3 separate regions of the Homo sapiens genome follow, and regions 1 and 2 are each linked to region 3. Evidence: fine-mapped expression QTL. A gene starts in region 3. Each other region holds a variant in brackets. All regions are shown on one strand. Distances are between the middles of the regions.

What was found. PIP is the estimated chance that this variant, and not a neighbour inherited with it, causes the effect. A credible set is the group of variants that fine-mapping cannot tell apart.
Region 1: its variant is the best candidate, but not a certain one, in a credible set for the expression of GPR34 in tibial nerve (GTEx, PIP 0.73).
Region 2: its variant is the best candidate, but not a certain one, in a credible set for the expression of GPR34 in spleen (GTEx, PIP 0.74).

Annotation. Positions count from the first base shown.
Region 1 is chrX:41,586,738-41,590,987 of GRCh38, forward strand. CASK (calcium/calmodulin dependent serine protein kinase) reads right to left here. Exons shown (of 27, transcript NM_001367721.1): 13 at 2,778-2,855; 14 at 170-250. Among named protein-coding and RNA genes, the nearest start is that of CASK-AS1, 71 kb to the left of the region's middle. The variant G/T (reference allele first, on the strand shown) is at 2,505.
Region 2 is chrX:41,744,130-41,748,379 of GRCh38, forward strand. CASK (calcium/calmodulin dependent serine protein kinase) reads right to left here. Exons shown (of 27, transcript NM_001367721.1): 4 at 1,395-1,472. It also overlaps the pseudogene RPS15AP39. Among named protein-coding and RNA genes, the nearest start is that of GPR82, 22 kb to the left of the region's middle. The variant C/T (reference allele first, on the strand shown) is at 2,462.
Region 3 is chrX:41,686,922-41,691,171 of GRCh38, forward strand. It overlaps GPR34 (G protein-coupled receptor 34), which reads left to right and starts at 2,052. Exons shown (of 3, transcript NM_001097579.2): 1 at 2,052-2,163; 2 at 2,822-2,914. All of the region lies in intron 5 of CASK (calcium/calmodulin dependent serine protein kinase), which reads right to left.

The DNA.
Region 1 (4,250 bases), 100 kb before region 3:
ACAAAACAGTCTTAAAATATTTGGTATTACCTGGTATTGTAATCTTAATAGTCTCATATGATATGGATAAAAATGCATGAGATGAAGCTGGCTACATTTTATGAGGGTAGTTTAAAAACTTCTTTTGAAAGTGAGGTTTCAGTTCTATGGAAGTTTAATTATTACTTACCATGAAATGAGGTTGTGTTAAAATACGCTTTAGTTCCTTTGCGTCGTTATTCTCAGGGTAACATGAAATTTCTTCCAATACCTAAAAAATAAACAAGATATACAATAATACAAACATGACACAAGATTTACAAAATGTTAAATTCTTTTAAGTTAAAAATTATGAGTGGATTTTTATGGCAGGCAAAACAATTATTTTGAAAAACTTTTCATTTTATTCAAATGTTATTAATACATAGAAGAACAGTATTGATGGTAATAAAAATGAAGCAAATTGTTCTAAAAGTCTGTCAACTATAACCTAAAAGGTTATTGAAAAATATAAAGCAAAATGACAAGGCTGCAACATATATTTATTACAGATTTATGAAACTTAACGGAAGAGTATCTCTGAATATCCTTTTCCAAACTCACCATAAAAATCAATATGGACAAAAAGTTAATAAGAAGTTTTCTTTTATATTAACAGCACTGCCAATTCCCTTTAGAAATGTCAAAATGACACAGGCACAAATAGAAACGATTTCAAGAACAGAACTAATTAATTAGACTACTTAATTAAGAATACACAAGTAATTTTTCTTTAAGTAATGTAGAAAATGCAAAAATGCCTGCCGGATCAATGTTTTTCCCCATAGTCATCTGCCCACACAGAGAAAGTCATGCCTCTGCTAATGGCTCTTAGGGTTAAATGCCAGGGAGCCTAAGAGAACAATTTTTTAAAGCCTTATTTTCTCTTTCCACTCAAATTTTCTTCACTAATTAGTCATTAACATTTTTCTGCACAGGTAAAATTGATTGTTTTCAAATAAAATTGTTTTAAAAAGTTCTCCTTTACCACCAGGATGGAGTTTACCTGTGTAAGTTATTTATGGGACATGAACCCATGAAAAAGCCTCTGTTCTTTTTCTGAGTAAACACCTGCTGCTATTCTAACTGCATATGGCTGGATTCAGAGGTTTGCATTACACTCAACTGAATTCCAACCATTAAGCCAATAAAGGATTGCTTTGGCACAACTGGATGGCAGGATCATACCACCATCCATCCAGGAGGACTCTCACCTCAACCTGTGAAAACCATACAAAAGCTTCCTACTGGGGCAGGAGGGGGATGTTGTGAGGTCACATGGCCCGAGCCTTAGATTTTAGCATCATAACTAGAATGTTCTGTGCTACTCAACTACTGCCTCAGGGAAGAACAAACAAACAAGCAAAAATGACAGAGCTTTCTTATCCGAATACCCTGTTCATTAGAGTGCTGGTTATGCTGTTAATTCATATTGTTTCAAGATGATAAACCAATTATCCTTGGTGTATTTTATGCTCCGAGTTTCTCTATTAGTGAAATGAGAGGACAAAACCACATACTCTCTCTGGGTCCTTGCTCCTCTCCTAGTTTATTTTTAAATACAGAGGTGTGGTATTTCCACCTAAGCAGGGTTAGGGGGAAACCAGCAGGTTTTCACTGTCCAGTTGAGCCAAAGAATTGTCCCCAGAGTCTCTCTGCTTCTATCTGCGTATTGTGAAGACAGGGTGGTGATTCATGCCTCTATCAGCGATATCTTAATTCCCTTCTATGAGCCCTTGGTGGTGAAGTCAGAGACAACCCCTCCAAGCTAGTCCTGACCAAGTGGGCAGGCCGGGCAGCCTCCACTGCATGGGTCTCATTTCTCAGTGAACGTACACCATCTTCCAGTACAGACTTTCTGTCTAAAATCTGGTAGGGAAGGGATTATGTCCTTCATAGTCTTTCACATAGTAATTTCACTTTATAAGAAATAATTTTTCTAAAAGAAAAATGTTTATTTGCACAAAGACTGACATGATCAAAAAATGAAAAAAAAAAAAACCCATGTGTCTAACAATGGGAGAATTGCTAATATGTTATACTTTAATAACAGCAAAGAAAAATATTGCAGTCATTAGAAGTTATATTTGTAAAGATCAAGTAGAAACATGGAAATATGCTTATTATATAACGGTAGGTTAAAAAAGACACATTTTGATTACAACTATAAAAAAATTTATATGCAAATGGAGAGTGACTAGAAAACGATATATAAAAATGGAAACTACTGTGTTAGGGTGATGAGATTATGGATCTATTTTTATTTTCCAAACTTTCTGCAATGTTGTATTTCTATCATAAATAGGTTTTTAAAAGTTTGTGACAGATATAGCCACATACCTTGACAATTTACAAAAATGACTTCTTTGAACTCAGTATATTTAATTGCTACAGAAATTTAATTAACTTTCAAACATTACCACCTTCAAAAAGCAACTCAAATTTTTATAGCATGTCTATTTCCACCAAGTGTTGTAAAATAACTT[G/T]CTTTTTTAAAAAACAGAAAAAGAGAAGTAAAATTGATGGTAATGTATTCAAGTTTACATCGCAGAACCAGAACTAGAAATCTAGGCAATATTGCTGCAGAGATCTTTTTTCTTTTCTGTATGTTCAGTAATAAACTTAGAAATACTAAATCTGAATATAATGAGTCAAATTGTGACTCCAGGGAAACTGCCTCTTAATGTGCAACAGAAATGTCTTCAATAAAGGTGGCAAATATGATGATGCCAAATACTTCTATAAAATATATCACTTACCTCTTTGGCTCTCTGTACTGCATCGCTTGGAGGATTCCTGATTTGTGGTGAAGACTTTGTGTTAATTTTGTCATACAGCTAAAAAGCAAAGAAGAAAATCCAGTAAACACTCACAATTCTTTGCTAAAAATCAGAGCTTCATATTTATTATTTCACTAAACAATATTTTTCTTTTAAAAAGGCAGGCTGATGATTTCAGTGGGATCCTCTTGGTAATAACCTCTGAATTGTTCTGTGAAACTTGTCAGAATATGAGTCTTATGCATATCTTTTCAAAAAATCATCTTTAAATAGATGGACCAAAATTCTGTCAATGTGGCAATTTCCTTGTCATTTAAAATTCATCAATATTTCCTCAATCACAGTGTTTGTTTCCTCTGACAGAAGCAACTTTCAATAGCATGAATACAGAGTAAAATGAAAGAATGCTTTCTGGCCAAGGCACGTCTACACGGAGTAAAATGAAAGAATGCTTTCTGGCCAAGGCACGTCTGGAAGAATTTTCACAGAAACCTAAATCTTGGGAAAGGGCAAACCCAACTCCTTCTAGGAAGGAATGTTCTCACAAAGGCTTATGGTTGTTTTACTAGGGCTGTTCATTAACAGAATCAGTGCTGGTATCCTTCAGCAGGAAGTCAAGGACATAAACTTTTTTTCTTTTGACTCTGCCAATTCAGAGTGGAGAAGACACTGAAAAGAAAGCAAATATACGCTGGGAGCGATGGCTCATGCCTATAATGCCAGAACTTTGGGAGGCCAAGGTGGGCGGATCACCTGAGGTCAGGAGTTCAAGAACAGCCTGACCAACATGGCAAAACCCCGTCTCTACTAAAAATACAAAAAAAATTTGCCGGGCATAGTGGTGGGCGCCTGTAACCCCAACTACTCGGGAGGCTGAGGCAGGAGAATTGCTTGAACCTGAGAGGTGAAGGTTGCAGTGGGCCGAGATCACACCATTGCACTCCAGCCTGGGCGACAGAGCGAGATTCCGTCTCCAAAAAAAAAAAAAAAAAAAAAAAAGAAAGAAACTAAATATATTTCTAAAATTCCACAAACCTAAATGATCCAAAGTTCAGCTTTCTGAAGAACATACATTTAATTATTTTAGAAATACAATTAAAATATTAATTTCTACCTCAAATAAAGTGTTTCATAGTCAACAGTCTGCTTTGAAAAGTGAAAAGTTAAAGATGACCTCGGCTGTTGTGAACACTTTTATTTCCTAACTTCTCTAAAACAGGTGGGGATTTTCGTGGTCGGTTTTATTCTTTTTTTTTTCTTCACCTACTCTGTACACCAATGCTAGTTGAGAAGTCAAATACTGACTATAAACATTCTTCAGATTATAGTCAGATTTGCTTATACTAATGCAAGATAAATTTTTATGACTTATAAATATTTGGGCCACATCATACATAAAAATGCCTAACAAAAGCAATGTGAAGATAGAGCAGGGACAATTTTTTAAATGAT
Region 2 (4,250 bases), 57 kb after region 3:
AAAAAAAAAAAAACTTAATATGTTTGTGAGTTTGAACCCTTCAACATACTATGGCTGGTGACTAAGGAGGGATGCTGTATTCCATGTATTAAAAAGGCAACCTACAGGAGTGGGTAATTATGATTGAATGTAACCAAAACAGAAAGCTGTGTTGCTCTAAATGTATAAGCAAGTGGCCCAGCACGTGCATGGCTCCTGTGATTTTTCATATTTACTTCTTTTTTTTTTTTTTTTGAGACGGAGTCTCGCTCTGTCGCCCAGGCTGGAGTGCAATGGCACGATCTCTGCTCAATGCAAGCTCCGCCTCCCGGGTTCATGCCATTCTCCTGCCTCAGCCTCCCGAGTAGCTGGGACTACAGGCTCCCGCCACCACGCCCGGCTAATTTTTGTATTTTTAGTAGAGACGGGGTTTCACTGTGTTAGCCAGGATGGTCTCCATCTCCTGACCTCGTGATCTACCCGCCTCGGCCTCCCAAAGTGCTGGGATTACAGGCATGAGCCACCGCGCCCGGCCCATATTTCCTTCTTATTTTGAGTCATTAGGTCTTTACAAACAACTTCTCCACTTAGAACAACAGCTGCCATTTGATTGGTAGGTCTCACACTGGCCTGAAGCAAATATATTTTTAAAAATGGTGCTTTTATTTCTCTTCCTTTTACTGTTCTTTACTTTTCCTTAATTATTGTGAGATAATTTGATATCACTAAAAGGCAAAATGAAGAACTAATGAGGCAGATTTGCCAAAACAAAAATAAAAAAACCCAAGTAGAATTCTACATGGTTCCTGAGCTATTAGATCCCCGCTTCCTGTACAAAAATCATCAGAAATGGGAAAGACAGCAGTACTGAAAATGTAAGCCTGTATTATAAACCCACGTTTTCATTTTATTTATTTATTTATTTTGAGACTGAGTTTCGCTCTTGTTGCCCAAGCTGGAGTGCAATAGCGCAATCTCGGCTCACTGCAACCTCCACCTCCTGGGTTCAAACGATTCTCCTGCGTCAGCCTTCCGAGTAGCTGGGACTACAGGTGCATGCCACCACGCCCAGCTAATTTTTGTATTTTTAGTAGAGAAGGAGTTTCACCATGTTGGCCAGGATGATCTCGATCTCCTGACCTTGTGATCTGTCTACCTTGGCCTCCCACAGTGCTGGGATTACAGGCGTGAGCCACCGTGCCTGGCCCCTATAAACCCATGTTAATAGATAAACTCATTGTTCGGTATTTTGCATTTCCAGTGACTATCGGTTCTACTAACACATACTAAAACAGAGATGTTCCCTGTAGCAAAGAGCAGCAGCATGCTCTTTATCAGTTTGTCATGTGATGTCTTTGTCATTTTCTTTTTTTATTTTCAACTTGACCTCTGGTGATTAGATATACAATACATACCTGGCTACAGCTTCACTGTACACAAAACCAGCGTCAGCTCGCTTTACGATTTCAAAACACAGATCTGCTCCATCCATACTGTAAAAAAATGTGAAAAAGAACATAAGAAAAGAGGAAATTCCAGGAAGACAACACTGAAAGTGAATACATTGTAACTAAGTTATTAGTTGATTTACTGCTAAGGGTTATGTTATTTAAATCTCCTTTCTTTCAATGAAATATAGACATAAATTATAAAGGGCATGACAGTCATCTTCACATTGAAAATCTGCAGGGAAAGAAACAGGAAGAGTAGGCTAACAGTAATATCAAATAACATTGAGTATATAAAATTGACTATAATTTTTCTTTAGGTTTTCACAAAAAGAAGCATCAGAAAACAGCAATGCTAGGGTTGTGTGCATATTTTTAAGTCAAATTCCAAAAATATTCAGTTATGTAGAATACAAGGATTTAAAAAACAATCTTGCTATTGTTATTACCACTAAATGGAAAATTCAGGCTATATACTGTGGAAGGAAAAAACAATGACATATATAAAATAAAATTTATTTTTGTTTACACTGCCATTCCCAAAGTTCATCGCTACAAACATATTGTAACACATAGATGTGTTGGTAACGCAATGTCACGATATTGTCTTAGAACTTACAGTAGTTTTCTATTTCTTACTAGATAAGTAAGGCCTCTTGTTGTCTTGGCCACACCTTGCCTCTTCTACCTACCTTGTCCACTGATGTTTCAAGAAAATCTTCCTCTCTAGGCAGAATGGTCTTATTATCACTCCCTGAGTACACCATTTTCTTTTTTACTTTTGTATATATTGCTTTTCATTTTCAAAACCTACCTTAATTCAAGGTTTCATTCCAATCCTACCTTCCCTGGAAGCCCCCTCAATGATTACCAGCCATATTAATGCCTTCCTTTGCTTTTCATTCTATAACAACTCTATATGGTCCATAACATTTAGCACATACAAACACCTCCCCCTCCCCCCACATACACCTATATATGTATACATGAATTTTGCCATATTATACATATTAATGAAACTATGCAAATATTAA[C/T]AGCTAACATTTTCATAATGCTTTAAGGCTTATAACATATTTTTAAATCCAGTATCTCATTCATTCATTCATTCATTCAGTAGTTCAGTTTCCCAATATACCTGCTGCAGATATTATACTGAGGAAATAGAAACTTCTGGAAGGGAAAGTAAAGGAACTAACATACTTCCTATTCATGAGGCATCATAGGAAGCAGTCCTTGTTATGCCTCCCTTCATACTTATAACCACCCCATGAGGTCAGCATCATTTTCAAATAATTTGTCTAAGTGAGTGGACAAGTATGTGATAGGGACAAGATCGAAATCTCTGTCTAGCTATGTCCTGTGCTCTTCCCATTGATTATAGCTATACCTACTGGGTGTGCAAGGAACAAATGCACATCTTTAAGCCCTACAACAGTTCCATGATAGTGTAAAGTCCTAAAGAACAAGAAAAAATATATTTATACTTTCAATGTACCCCTACCTAATACTCAGCAGAAGACACACTGTAGACACCTAATGAACAGTTGATTCTATTATTTGATTCTCGGTGTGGTTTTATATAAATGAATGAAAATACTTTCACATTTATACAGGCTCTAAAAACTTTACCAAGTTTCCATTTCACACCTAAGGAACATTTTCCAATGTCAAATAGGATTCTTCTCCAAAATAATGTTTATAGTTGCCTAGTCTACTATAAACATTATTATAATGGTCTAGTCTACTCCCTAGTATGGCAGCACTCATTTTCCACCATCAGAAATAAAGCCTGGATGAACGTGATCATGCATCTTGGTGAGCAACTCTGATTATCTGTATGGTAAAATTCCTACAAGCTGAGTTGCTAGGACAAGGGGTATATACAATAGCATTTTTTTTTTGAGACGGAGTCTTGCTCTGTCGCCCAGGCTGGAGTGCAGTGGTGCATCTCGGCTCACTGCGAGCTCCGCCTCCTGGGTTCATGCCATTCTCCTGCCCCAGCCTCCCAAGTAGCTGGCACTACAGGCGCCCGCCACCACGCCCGGCTAATTTTTTGTATTTGTTTTAGTAGAGACGGGGTTTCACCGTGTTAGCCAGGATAGTCTCGATCTCCTGACCTCGTGATCCGCCCGCCTTGGCCTCCCAAAGTGCTGGGATTACAGGCATGAGCCACTGCGCCCGGCCTACAATAACACTTTTGATACATACACAAGACCAGAAACAGTTTAACAATTTATACTCCCACTACCATGTGTGAATGTGTCCCTTGCTCTACTAGGATAATGATTATTTTTTTTCCATCTTTGCCAATTAGATAAGAGGAAAAAAGTCATTCATGATTGCTTTAATTTGCATTTCCTTGATTACTACAGAGAGTAAATATTTTTCATTTCTTTGTCCTGTGGGGAGAAAAGAAACGCTATTTTAAAAACTGGCTGTAGTTTAAGCTGGTTAGTTGATCTATGAGGACTAAAAAACATCTCATAGCGAAGGAATCAGTTTTGCTTAGGCGTTTTCCTTTGTAATTGTGATATATGAGGGTAAGCACGATTCAACTTAGATGAGAGAGGGGTTAGGAAAAGGAGAGAGCTAAACTGATTGCATAATGAAGCAATAAGAATTTAGGCTCTTTCTGCCATCTCTCCATGCTGCCATAATGGTGTGCATGAATGTCCTGGCTGATGCTATCCAGAGCATCAACAATACCAAAAAGAGGCAAACACCAGGTTCTTATTAGGTTGTGCTCCAAAGTTACTGTCCAGTTTCTAACTGTGATGATGAAGCATGGTTACATTGGTGAATTTGAAATCACTGATGATCATA
Region 3 (4,250 bases):
ACATATCGAAAATGAGCTAAGAACGCAGAGACAAACCAGAATGTTCAGAATGAACAGGAAAAAGCTTATATAAAGAAAGAACTAGAAAAAGATTATACTCAAATCTGGTGGTAGCTGTGCTGACTCACATTGAGGAGAAAATGTGGTCACAATATGAGGAAACTGAAGATTAAAACAATTAGTGTTTTGAAAAGGGTTGTCTTAGGTGTAGGAAAATAATATAGAAAAAAATATATTCATGCTAGATTATATGAAATAGAATGCACGTAGTTAAATGCCTATTTAGTCATTAAAAAATTCCTGCTAGGATCTTGAAGAGATATATGCATACTCATGTTCACTGCAGCATTATTCACATTAGTCAAGAGGTGGAAGCAACCCAAAAATCCATCAACAGATGAATGCATAGGGAAAATGTGGTGCATATACAGTGGAATATAATGCAGTTTGATAAAAGAAGGAAATCCTGTAACATGCTGCAACGCAGATGAACCTCGAGGATATGACACCAAGTGAAATAAACATGTCACAAAAGGACAAATACTGTGTGATTCCACTCATATGAAGTGTCCAAAGTAGTCCAAATCAATGAAACATAAAGAATCATGATTGTCAAGGGCAGGGGGAGAGGAGAGAAATCGTTTAGTGGTGAAGAGTTTTAGTTTTGCACGATGAAAAACTTCTAGAAACTGTTGCACAACAATGTGAATATACTTAACACTATTGAATTGTATACTTAAAAATGGTTAAGATGGGGCTGGGCGCAATGGCTCACACCTGTAATCCCAGCACTTTGGGAGGCTGAGGTGGGTGGACCACCTGAGGTCAGGAGTTTGAAACTAGCCTGGCCAACATGGCAAAACCCTGTCTCTATTAAAAATACAAAATTAGCCGGGCATGGTGGTGCATGTCTGTAATCCCAGCTACTTGGGAGGCTGAGGCAGGAGAATCGCTTGAACCTGGGAGGTGGAGGCTGCAGTGAGCCGAGATTGTGCCATTGTACAATCTCTTGTCGCCTGGGCAACAAGAGCGAAACTCCGTCTCAAAAAAAAAAAAAAAAAAAAAAGTTAAGATGGTAAATTTAATGTTACATATTGTACCACAATAAAATAAAATCCTGCCAATACAACAATATTGCAGGACTAATACAGCAACCACCTTCCTTCTCAGAGGTTCTAAGGGGAAGTAAGAGCTACAAAACATTTTTATTCTATTAATTTAAAAATATCCTGTCCCATAAATCATATTTATAACAAACAAAAAGCTCTGGAGAATATAATGTTCAGAAGAGTGTACCCAGAAATAATTAGAATGTTAGATACAGCCCAATGAGTCAAATATTTAGTGCAAACAAGCTGCAGGATAACAATTATGGGGAGAATAAAAACTAACTTCTTCATTTCAAATGACAACAAAAAAAGGGAAATAACACTAAACTGCAGGGCCAGCAGTTACATAGATGGACAGATAGTGGTTAAATTTTGGACTAGGATCAAAACCAAGACTGCAGAATCCCATCATTATTTCGCTTAAAATACAGGTGATGTTTTAATTTGCTCGGGAGAGTTTATCATAGTGATCAAAAGGGGAGAACACCATCAGAAATCTCATCTAGTCCTAATAATACAAGTTTGTTTTAGCAAAGGTCTTAAAGGAATACATGAAAATATGCTAAAATAATGTACAGATGAAAACTTAAGAAACAGAAATTCAGTGCTTGTGCTTTGAAAGTCCATATAGCATATTATGTATCATTTCTTACAAAACACAGAAAATACATATTTCTGCTTAGAATTTATAAAACTTTTAAATTTTGAGCGGGGGGAGGAAAACATTCCACAATTGTCAAGTTGGAAGGTATTCATAAAGAAGATATAAATAATTTCCTAAAGTTCAGTGTTGGTTGAGCTTAAAGTTGTTCCATGGTAGTAGGGCTTTTTAATATTTTCAAAAGGAATCTGAGAGTTGTCATACCGAAAAAAGAAAAAAAAAAAGAGGGGGAAAAAAAAAACCCTACCACCACATATGAACATAAAAAAGAAGAGAACCCCAACCAATTGCACCACGACCGGATGGAAGAGCCCAGCTGACACAACCAAGACGAGTCTCAGTGTCTAGGGAAGCTTGGGGTTCTGCTCCTTTTACTTCAGGCGAACCTGAACTGTGAGTATTTCTTGATTTCGGCTACATAAATGAACCTTTATTTCAGCTAAAATTTGATTATCTGAACATTCAAAGTGAAACGTGATTCATGGTGATAAGGCTACTCTAATGTCAGCAGTTATTCGCTTTTAGAACTACTGAGTAAATTGCTTGAATGACACCTCTGCCTTGATTTCAAATGAGACTGTCTTTTTAGTTACTTTAAGTACTTTAAGACATTCAAGGTATTTAAGCTCCTACTGTCAATATAGTCACATTGTTGATACTGCATTTGGATACTGCCATCAAGATTTTGCAGATCTACTTGCATGAATTAAAAGTTATTTTCATATGCAATACATTTTATTTCTAATGTATTATAAATTATAACTTATTGACTTTAAGTTATGCTGTCTCCCTATTTTAAATTACTGTCTTTTCTTTATTATATTATTACTATTTTATAGTATTACCAGACCATATAACATTTAAGTTTGGTGTTTCAGAAGTAAATAAGGTGAATATTAGATAAGAGAGAAAGCAAAATATGCTTTAGTTCAAATAATAATTTTTTAAAATGTGTTTCTAGGGACACAGTTAAATTTGTAACAAAACCTAACACACTATTAATAGTATTATTTCCAAAGTAATATGTTTTCAATTTTCATTTTTTATACAGCAGTTAATGCAATTTTGAAGCATGCCCTGAATAGATTCAGTCATTATCAAGTCAAACTAAAAACGGTGAAAGGTTGCGACTATTACCAAATAGGTATGTATTTCAACATAGCAATGTGATATTTTCACAAACATACCCAAACTGCATTTTAAAAGCTTCTGCTCATCTGGAGTCACAGTGGAATCTGTTGGGTCCTGCCCTCTGGGTCCAGTACTCCTACATGAGCCAGTTGAAAAAAAACTGCAGGAGTAGGTGGTGGTGCGGGGGTACAATGCACTAATACTAGGTTTTTGAACTTGTGAATAGGATTTGCCAAGTAACAACATTTAAAAAACACTATCTACTATTACAAAACTATTGTGACCACTTCAATATAGCACATGGGTCACAAGTAATGCCCACTGGGAAATTAATCCCCTATGTAAACACAGTGGTTTGTTTCTTGTCTTCACAAGCAATTCTTAACATATCAAACAGGTAGTTTAAAAAATATCAGTAAATAGCCTTATATAGTGAATGACATTGTAATGTACTAACCAACTTCAAAGGAGAAAAAAAAACAGTCACCAAGTTTAAAACAGAATGTAATTGTGATTTTTAATTAAAAAAAAAATTTTTTTTTGAGACAGACTCTCGCTCTGTTGCCCAGGCTAGAGTACAGTGGCATGAACACAGCTCACTGCAGCCTCTGTCTCCCGGGTTCAAGCAATTCTCCAGCCTCAGCCTCCGGAGTAGCTGGGACTACAGGTGCGTGCCACCACGCCCTGCTAATTTTTTTTTTTTTTTTTGGTATTTTTTAGTAGAGGCAGGGTTTCGCTATGTTGGCCAGGCTGGTCTCGAATTCCTGGACTCCAGTGATTTGCCTGCCTCGGCCTCCCAAAGTGCTGGGATTACAGGCATGAACCACTGCTCCCGGCCAATTTTTTTTTTTTTTATGTTCTTTTTTTTTGAGACAAGGTCTTACTCCGTCACCCAGGCTGGAGTACAGTGGAGTGATCTAGGATCACTGCAACCTCTGCTTCCCAGGCTCAAGCGATCCTCCCACCTTAGCCTCTCGAGTAGCTGGGACTATAGGCGCACGTCACCATACCCGCTAATTTTTATACTTTTTGTAGAGACAGGGTTTCACCATCTTGCCCAGGCTGGTCTAGAACTCCTGAACTCAAGTGATCCTCCCACTTCAGCCTCCCAAAGTGCTGGGATCACAGGCATGAACCATGGCGCTCAGCTGTCAATTTGTGAATCAATAATTGTATGCTAGCTGTCTAATACATAGTTCTAAATGATGGCCACTATTATAACATAAACAAATGCACTGGCTTTGCTTTATGCTCTTTAAACTGAAGACTAAAGCAAAACCAGAAATGCTTACTGACAGATTTGTCCAACTATTACTTATTTTATTTGCAGATTAGAGCTGAGGCAAATG